Linked DNA regions of Homo sapiens. The protein of the gene in region 3 purifies or fractionates together with the protein of the main gene of each other region. This does not show direct contact. Each region holds a gene or a part of one and is shown on either strand. Other genes may lie near its edges.

Region 1 (3,500 bases), on a different chromosome or scaffold from region 3:
TGGGAGGGAGAGTACCTGCAGAGGACCTCATCCGTGGCCCATGTGCACATATAAACAAGAACACTCTATTTATGGAGTTCCAAAGTAGAGAAAGTCAGCAGCAGCAGCAGCACTTACCAGCCTTACACACGTGGATAATCTCAAACCCGATGTTTTCGCCTTCTCTATCACAGTCAGTCCAGATCACCAGAGCCTGGCACTGGCGAGTCTCTCGTTCCAAAGTTTTCTTAAGTTCGCAGTGGAATAAGAGTGGTGAGAACAGAATTGCACAACAGTGACTTGACATCTCTAAGCTAAGGGGATCTGACTGAAGGTTAATGCTGCTCTTGGAGTGTGACAACTTGGCAAGGGAAAGAGAACAGAGAAAACTGCTCTCATTGGTGCTAATCATGATACAACCCCTTAGAACCATAAACGAGTTTCTAGAATAGAGGGTTTAATATAACTTCCCCAATATGACAAAACCTGAAATTCAGCTCTAACACACACACACGCGCGCGCGCGCGCGCGCACGCACACTTCGAGAGGTTCTGATTATGACCTAGTTAAAAAAAACGAAGCCGGCTGGGCGTGGTGGCTCACGCCTGTAATCCCAGCACTTTGGGAGGCCGAGGTGGGTGGATCACGAGGTCAGGAGATCGAGACCATCCTGGTTAACACGGTGAAACCCTGTCTCTACTAAAAATACAAAAAATTAGCCGGGCATGGTGGCAGGCACCTGTAGTCCCAGCTACTCGGGAAGCTGAGGCAGGAGAATGGCATGAACCCGGGAGGCGCAGCTTGCAGTGAGTCGAGATCGCACCACTGCAGTCCAGCCTGGGTGACAGAGCAAGACTCCATCTCAAAACAAAACAAAACAAAACAAAACAAAATGAATCCCAATTGAATTTCATCCAAAGTTTTATCAGTTCTCAATAAATTAACTGGCCAGGCTCGGTGGCTCACACCTGTAATCCCAAAACTTTAGGAGGCTGAGGCGGGTGGATCACGTGAGGTCAGGAGTTCGAGACCAGCCTGGCCAACATGGTGAAACCCCATCTCTGTTAAAAATGCACAAATTAGCCGGGTGTGGTGGCAGGCGCCTGTAATCTCAGCTACTTGAGAGGCTAAGGCAAGAGAATCGCTTGAACCTGGAGGCAGAGGTTGCAGTGAGCTGAGATTGCACCATCATACTCCAGCCTGGGGGACAAGAGCGAGACTTCGTCTCAAAAAATAAATAAATAAATAAATAAAAATTAAAAATAAATTAACTATACATGCCCTGACTGCTTGACAACTGGCAATTTACTGTCAAACAGGCATTTATACTTTGTAGCCTCTTTCATCTAACAAGGGGTGAGATGGGGGCTACGCGCTAATAATTTACAATACTTAGGATTATTTTTTGATAGGGTCTCACTTTCTCACCAGGCTGGAGTGTGGTGGTGTGATTACGGCTCACTGCAGCCTCAACCTCCTGCCTCCTGGGATCAAGTAATCCTCCTTCCTCAGCCTTACTAGTAGCTGGGACTATAGGCATACATCACCATGCCTGGTTAAATTTTTTTTTTTTTTTGAGAGATAGGGTCTCACTATGTTGCCCAGGCTGGTCTCAAATTCCTGGAGTTCATGTGATCCTGCCTTGGCCCCACAAATTGCTGGGATTACAGGCATAAACCACCATGTCCAGCCTTTATTCCTAGGATTTAAACAACTACCATTCATAAAAAAAGTTTACTTCAGTCCCTTGGCCACTTAGCCACATTTATACAATGGGTGGGAACCAGCTTTTTAAATCATGGTAGTGACTTTGGTGGAAAACCTTATCTCCAAATGCCAATGCATTAAAAACAAAGAAATCACTCTGTTTGACTCTGTGGTTTGACTCAGTGCCATATGTCTTCCAAAAGACCCTACCTTGATGTCTACAAAATTCTCTGGGCAGTACTTTTCAATTTCTGCTTCAAAGAGGACAAGAGGGTTGCAGCTCTGCCTAGAAAAGAAATGAAAACAGAGTCCCAACTCAGTACATGACAGAGAGCCCTCCAATCTAATGACAGCAAACTGTTCCAATGGGTTCATGGTGTATCCCCAAAAGAAAAGGTCCCGGTGAATTGAAAGTAAGGCTATGACCCTCTGCATGACACACTGTCCACTTCTCCAAGAGTGTGAACAGGACTGATAAGATGGCATTCTGGAGCCCTTTCACAGGTAAATGCAATCCAATGGCTGCATGAAAAAGGTCTGGCAATTTTGAGGAACACCAAAAGTGACTGTTTAAAGATTTAATAAAAATTCACAATGGATCAGATAATCCTAGGTCATCTTAGTATTATAAATTACTGCTGGGCGTGGTAGCTCACGCCTGTAATCCCAGCACGTTGGGAGGCCAAGGTGGGTGGATCACGAGGTCAGGAGATCGAGACTAGCCTGGCTAACACGGTGAAACCCCGTCTCTACTAAAAATACGAAAAATTAGCCAAGCGTGGTGGCAGGCACCTGTAGTCCCAGCTACTCGGGAGTCTGAGGCAGGAGAATCGCTTGAACCCGGGAGGTGGAGGTTACAATGAGTCAAGATTGTGCCACTGCACTCCAGCCTAGGCGACAGAATAAAACTCCGTCTCAAAAAATAAATAAAATAAATAAATAAATAAATAAATTACCAAGGCACAGTGGCTCACGCCTGTAATCCTAGCACTTTGGGAGGCAAAAGAAGGCAAACCCTGCTTTGTTTAAGACCAGCCTGGGCAACAGGGTGAAACTCCATCTCTACTAAAATAGAAAAAATTAGCTGGGTGTAGTGGCACATGGCTGTAAGGCCAGTTACTTGGGAAACTGAGGCATGAGAATCGCTTGAACCCAGGAGGCGGAGGTTGCAGTGAGACGAGATTGCGCCACTGCACTCCAGCCTGGGTAACGCAGCGAGACCCTGACTCAAAAAAAAAAAAAAAAAAAAACCGGGCATGGTGGCTCACGGTCTGTAATCCCAGCACTTCAGGAGGCTGAGGTGGGCAGACCACCTGAGGTCAGGAGTTCGAGACCAGCCTGGTCAACATGGTGAAACCCTGTCTCTACTAAAAATACAAAAACTAGCCAGGTGTGGTGGCACGTGCCTATAGTCCCAGCTACTCGGGAGGGTGAGGCAGGAGAATCACTCGAACCCAGGAGGCAGAGGTTGCTGTGAGCCGAGATCACACCACTGCACTCCAGCCTGGGAGACAGAGTCTCACTCTGAAACTTTGTCTCCAACAAAAAAAAAAAAAAAAAAAAAAAAAAAAAAAAAAAATTACCCAGTAAGATCAACATGCCTCAAAATTCCTGTGAAATTTCACAACTTACTATAATCTGAAAGTCCTTCCCTTGAGAATTGTACTGACCATTTTCGAAACTGCATCTGGAAATCATGAGCCAGTAAATGTCCAGAAACTGAAGTCATTACCATGGTAACATTCTGAATGATGACAAAATTCAAAATTCAGTTAGTCTTTTTGCAGTTATTATTCTGCCAAATCATTAAAATG
Region 2 (3,500 bases), about 100 Mb from region 3:
AGGTTTAAGGTAGGATTGAGAAGCCTTCATAGAAGGGATCACCATTGCCATTGTATCCAGGGTGGAAGGAAAGGCTGAAGGTAGATGCAAGGAAGTTTGTAGGCATGGTAACAGGAAGTTGAGGCTCTTCCCATCCCATGGTATCAATTATCTGAATTCTTCATGAGGCAGGATCATTTGCTGAAATGAGAGTGGAGAAGAGGAGAGTTGTCAGTGAGGGGGCTGAAGATATGAAGAAAAGGCTGTGTGCAGTGGCCCCCTCTTGTAATCCCAGCACTTAGGGAGGCTGAGCTGAGATGATCACTTGAATCCAGGAGTTTGATACCAGCCTGGGCAACATAGTAACAGGGCATCATAATAAGACCTCGTCTCTACAAAAAAAAATTTTTTTTTTTTTTTTTTTTTTTTTTTTTTATTGAGACTATGTCTCGCTCTGCTGCCCAGGCTGGAGTGCAGTGGCTCGATCTCGGCTCACTGCAAGCTCCGCCTCCTGGATTCACGCCATTCTCCTGTCTCAGCCTCCCGAGTAGCTGGGACTATAGGCAGGCACCCATCACCATCACCATGCCTGGCTAATTTTTTTCTTTTTTTTTTTTTTTAGTAGATATGGGGTTTCACCGTGTTAGCCAGGATGGTCTCGATCTGCTGACCTCATGATCTGCCCGCCTTGGCCTACCAAAGTGCTGGGATTACAGGCATGAGCCACTGCGCCCGACCGTCTCTACAAAAAATTTAAAACAAATTTTAAAATTAGCTGGATGTGATGGTGGGCACCTGTAGTCCCAGCTACTCAAGAGGCTGAGGTGGGAGGATCACTTGAGCCCAGGATTTTGAGGCTGCATGAGCTATGATCAAGGCACCACACTCCAGCTTGGGTAACAGAACAAAACCCTGTCTCAATAAAATAAATAAATAAAAAGATAGAGAAAGGAAATTACTCAAGAACTGTTATATAGCTAAAATCTTTTTTTTGTTTGTTTTGTTTTATTTATTTATTTTTATATATTTTTTTGAGATCAAATTTTGCTCTGTCGCCCAGGTTGGAGTGCAGTGGCGCAATCTCGGCTCACTGCAACCTCTGCCTGCCAGGTTCAAGCGATTCTCCTGCCCCAGCCTCCCGAGTAGCTGGGATTACAGGCATGTACCACCACGCCCGGCTAATTTTTGTATTTTTAGTAGAGATGGGATTTCACCATGTTGGCCAGGCTGGTCTTGAACTCCCAACCTCAGGTGATCTGCTCGCCTTGGCTTCCCAAAGTGGTGGGATTATTACAGGCATGAGCCATCTTGCCCAGCGTTTTTTTCGTTTTTGTTTTTTTCCCCGAGACAGACTCTTGCTCTGTTGCCAGACTGAAGTGCACTGGCGGATCTTGGCTCACTGCAACCTCCACCTCCCAGGTTCAAGCGATTCTCTTGCCTCAGCCTCCCGAGTATCTGGGACAGGTGTGCACCACCACGCCCAGCTAATTTTTTTTTTTTTTTTTTTGAGGCGGAGTTTTACTCTGTCGCCAGGCTGGAGTGGAGTGGCACAATCTCGGCTCACCACAACCTCCACCTCCTGGGTTCAAGCGATTCTCCTGCCTCAGCCTCCCCAGTAGCTGGGATTACAGGCACCCGCTACCACACCAGCTAATTTTTGTATTCCCTTTTTTAGTAGACGGCATTTCACCGTGTTGGCCAGGCTGGTCTCGAACTCCTGACCTCAGGTGGTCCACCTACCTCGGCCTCCCAAAGTGCTGGGATTACAGGAGTGGGCCATGTGCCTTGCCTGGCTAAAATCTTTTGAGTACTCAAAGTTGCTGTTGACTGTGTTGGGGTCTTTTATTCAGGTAACATGTGTATTCTCATTTTTATGTCCCAAGTGTTTATTCCAGCATATGGTATTTATTTACCTGCTTCACTAAGTAGTTAGTAAATTAAAATATTAACAGTAATGAAAGTGTGTCTTCTGATTTATTTCAGCAATAACAGTAGGCAAATAAAATATCTTTATTACTAAGAAAAAAATTGAGAGAGGTTAAACAATGTGCTTAAGGTTACAGATATAACAGTCATAAAGTGTGTATTATGTTGAATCAGTCTAATAAGTTGCTGGCTCAGATACTGCTATAAAAAGAGAGAGCAAAAAACTGGAACATCCCTGAGGAGAACAGAGCATAGAGCTTATTAGGGCAATCCAAAGGATTGCTGGCAGCAGACAGGGACCAGCTGAATCTCGAAATACTGACTTCCATGGTGGCATCAATCTCTGCATTTGCATCTGTGTGGTTTGTGACATATTGGGCAGCACTGAGCAGTTCTCTTGCAGGGCCAAAGATGTAGGAGGCTAAGGTGCAGAAGAACAATGAATGGTACAAAGGGAACTAGGGAAAATGGTACAGCTTCATGGGATAAGAAACAAAGGTGGGAGGGGCCTGAGGATGGGAGAGAAAAAGAGGAGTTAAAGAACCGGTGGGTTGAAGTGCCATTAATAGGAATAATTGTCATGGCCGGGTGTGGTGGCTCACACCCATAATCCCAGCACTTTGGGAGGCCGAAGTGGGCAGATCACTTGAGATCAGGAGTTTGAGACCAGCCTTGCCAACATGGTGAAACCCCATCCCTACTGAAAAAAAAAAATACACATATGTGTGTGTGTGTGTGTGTGTGTGTGTGTGTGTATATATATGTGTGTGTGTGTGTGTATGTGTGTATATATATGTGTGTGTATATATGTGTGTGTATATATGTGTGTATATATGTGTGTATATATGTGTGTATATATGTGTATATATATGTGTGTGTATATATACACACACACACACACACATATACACACACATACATATATATATGTTAGCTGGGCGTGGTGGCATGTACCTGTAGTCCCAGCTACTCAGGAGGCTGAGGCAGGAGAGTCGCTTGAACCCGGGAGGCGGAGGCTGCAGTGAGCTGAAATCGTGCCACTGCACTCCTGTCAGGGTGACAGAGTGAGACTCTGTCTCAAAAAAAAAAAAAAAAAAGGAATAATTCTCAGAGCTGGCTGACCAAGAGACAGTAATCAGAGTAGGGTGTCTGATGGACAGTTTCAGAGGTACAGCCATTGGGGGAGATGACAGGATAAAGGGTGTAGCCATAGATGGGTGGTGGTGAAGATCTCTGAGATGAGGAGCTCAAGGAATTGAGAGGCCAGGGTGTGGACATCAGGTAATATTATAACACCATTATTAGATGGAGAGAGCTGCTGAGAACTACTGCCAGAGTGAGTTGAGTAGAGTGAACTGGAGGGGTAGCGTATGATAGAGCTAGGTGACATGATGAAGGTAGTAGCCCGGGATGAGGGTAGGTTAAAGGGTGGGATGGCACAGGTAATGGAGGATAGTGGTTCTGGATAGTGCTTCTGGCTTATCTCGTGCCTTCCCATCTGTTTCCTGTAGATTGACGTGCACCTCCACGATGCCCTGGGCCGGCCACATCAGTGTGGGACAATTCAGCTTGACTTCCAACTGCCCCTGAGATTT
Region 3 (2,564 bases):
CAGAAATAAGAAAGTTGTTCTCCAGAGCTGGAAACCCATCTTTCGTTTGTAGTGTCACTGTTGTGGCTCCAAGCTCAGTGATAGGAAAGGACGGTGGTTACACACCAGCCTTCTGAACCCAAGGCCCCCAGTATTGTTGTCAGCTGCCTTTACCATGGCATTTCTTTCTCTTTCTTTTTTTCCTGAGATGAAGTCTTGCTCTGTCTTGCCCAGGCTGGAGTACAGTAGCGTGATCTCAGCTCGCTGCAACCTCTACCTCCCTGGTTCAAGTGATTCTGCTGCGTCAGCCTCCTGAGGAGCTAGGATTACAGGCGCATGCCACCATACCTGGCTTATTTTTGTATTGTTGTAGAGACAGGGTTTCACTTTGTTGGCCAGGCTGGCTGGTCTCGAACTCCTGGCCTCAAGTGATCCACCACCTTGGCCTCCCAAAGTGCTGGGATTACAGGTGTGAGCCACCGTGCCTGGCCTGACATTTCTTTATTGATCTAACATGCTCCACTCTGCTGCTCCTGCCTAAGATCTGGTTATATGACACTGAATGTGGTGAGTGGGAATTTAAGCAGTATTCGCAGTTTGTGTGTGTGTGTTTTCTTCCTTCCAGAAGAATTTTTATAGGTTGGGCCTGTCCCTAAGCTCTTTAAATAGGGTGGACATCCCACTATTCTCTGAGCCGTGTCTATTTTGTTGCACCTTTGAGTCTATGTATTGAGAGAGACAGATAGTATTTTTTTAAACTGGGGAAGCTGCTATCCTTTCACTATTTCTCTAAAGGTTGAGCTGTTAACTAATGTAAATTCTGGACCTGCTTCTGGTCCTGGCAGTTTATCTTTTGAGAAACTTGAGTCTTATCTGCCCTGCCATTTTCATTAAATGCCTTCTGACCTTCTGAATGTTTTGGGTCCCAAGAATTTTTGACATCAGATGGGGTTGTTTTTATTGGTATCCAGTTATGTTTGCTTGTCTTTCCAGATGGGCCCAGTTATTAGCCATACATAGTACATTGATACACCTCCACCAGCGGGTGAGGAAATGATGGAAAAAGGAGTAAGAAGTGGCCATTCGTTTTAATCATTCCTCCTGGATTTGTCCTCAGTCCCCAACTGCCAAGTAGGATGTGTCCATGGATAAATGTGTGGGGCATGACTAAAGTACCACGTAGCTGTTCTTTATATTTATTTACCTAGAAAGATCTGGCAAAGAACTCAAAGAAAATTGTACCATTTAATCAGTAAATTTGTCCCCTGGTGCTAGCATGGTGTTATAGAAAGTGGACAGGCTTTAGAGTTAAGTGAATCTGGGTTCATATGTTAGTGTTGCTATTCATTAGCTCTATACTGTTGAACAAATTGCTTAAACTATCTAATTTTGGGGTTTTTTTTCCATCTAAAATAGGGATAATAATATCTACCTCATAGGATTATTGTGAGAATTAAATTAACTTCACTATAGTAGAAAATATCAACTACCATCCTTTTCTCTACTTCCCTTGCCCCTCATTAAAGACTAATACAAGTTAGCATTTCAGATGTGTAGATCATTCTTTATTCCAGTTAAAAGAACAAACTTTATCTCATCAGTTCTGAAACTTTAAGATGCAGTAGCATCACCTAAAGTGCTTTTAAAATGCAGATTCTCAGGCCTCAACCGTACACCACCCCCCCACACACGTACTAAATCAAGAATATGTGCAGAAGGTACTGGGAATCTACTTGTTAATATGTGCTCCAAATGATTCTGATGTAGGTAATTAGCCAGCCACACTTTGAGAACCACTGCCTTATCTATTCTTTACAAAAATGTACATTGCCAGGTCTTTCTTTCCTGTGGATGCTAACTATAGGATATTTAGGTTCCTCTGTTCTTTGTCTCCCATAGTGGCCCCCTTTGCAAACTCCAAATACATTATATTTATTTATTCTTGTGTCTTTTTTCCCCCACTAGACTGTGAGCTCCTTGAGGGCCAGGACTTATCTCTGTTCGCAGTGCCAAGGACATGGCCTGGACCATAGAAGATACTCAGTTTTTTGTTGAATAAATAGGTAATATGGATTTCAACCAAAACATTGTCTTGTGTATGTACCTGCATGTAAATACTCTAGATTTAAAAGAATCTCTTAATACACATAGATCGAGAATTTGTTGAGTAGAAATATTTGCAAACCAAGATACCAAGTTATACACAGTTCTCTGTACCTCACCTAATCCACTGGCATTACCTTGGTGGACCATTACACAGTACAACTTAACAGCTGCTCACAGAGCATCTATTCTGCAGCCACTATGTTAAGTGCTGGACACAGAAAGATGAGTAGAGTATGATTCCTGCTCGCAGGCTCTGTTTTAGCCACTGCCTGTTTCTCTCTTGCCTCTGATTCAGTGCCTCACACCTACACCTGATTATAGTTTGCTTTGTCTAGTTCTTGGATGTTCATACTGGTACTTCTTTCTTCTCCAACCAGTTTGGAAGCTGGAGCCACATGTTTTGCTTTGCACTCTCCATACTGACCTTTTGTTCAGTCTTGGAGAAGAGGTACTAATGCCCACTTCCTAGTCATTTGATT

Evidence for each region.
Region 1: the proteins of ATPAF1 (region 3) and TOP3A purify together in Homo sapiens (affinity purification with mass spectrometry; one large-scale study listed by BioGRID and IntAct). This does not show direct contact.
Region 2: the proteins of ATPAF1 (region 3) and TARS2 fractionate together in Homo sapiens (co-fractionation; one large-scale study listed by BioGRID). This does not show direct contact.

What each region holds. Positions count from the first base shown.
Region 1 is NC_000017.11:18,304,995-18,308,494, forward strand, and holds part of TOP3A (DNA topoisomerase 3-alpha), read right to left. Parts: intron 3,431-3,500; coding exon 3,357-3,430; exon of another isoform or gene 3,319-3,356; intron 2,502-3,318; exon of another isoform or gene 2,479-2,501; intron 1,973-2,478; coding exon 1,897-1,972; intron 227-1,896; coding exon 118-226; intron 1-117. UniProt on the Homo sapiens protein: Releases the supercoiling and torsional tension of DNA introduced during the DNA replication and transcription by transiently cleaving and rejoining one strand of the DNA duplex.
Region 2 is NC_000001.11:150,500,919-150,504,418, forward strand, and holds part of TARS2 (threonine--tRNA ligase, mitochondrial), read left to right. Parts: intron 1-3,416; coding exon 3,417-3,500. UniProt on the Homo sapiens protein: Catalyzes the attachment of threonine to tRNA(Thr) in a two-step reaction: threonine is first activated by ATP to form Thr-AMP and then transferred to the acceptor end of tRNA(Thr). Also edits incorrectly charged tRNA(Thr) via its editing domain.
Region 3 is NC_000001.11:46,632,237-46,634,800, reverse strand, and holds the end of ATPAF1 (ATP synthase mitochondrial F1 complex assembly factor 1), read left to right. Parts: 3' UTR 1-2,064; downstream 2,065-2,564. UniProt on the Homo sapiens protein: Has a complex stabilizing activity in the assembly of the mitochondrial F1-F0 complex.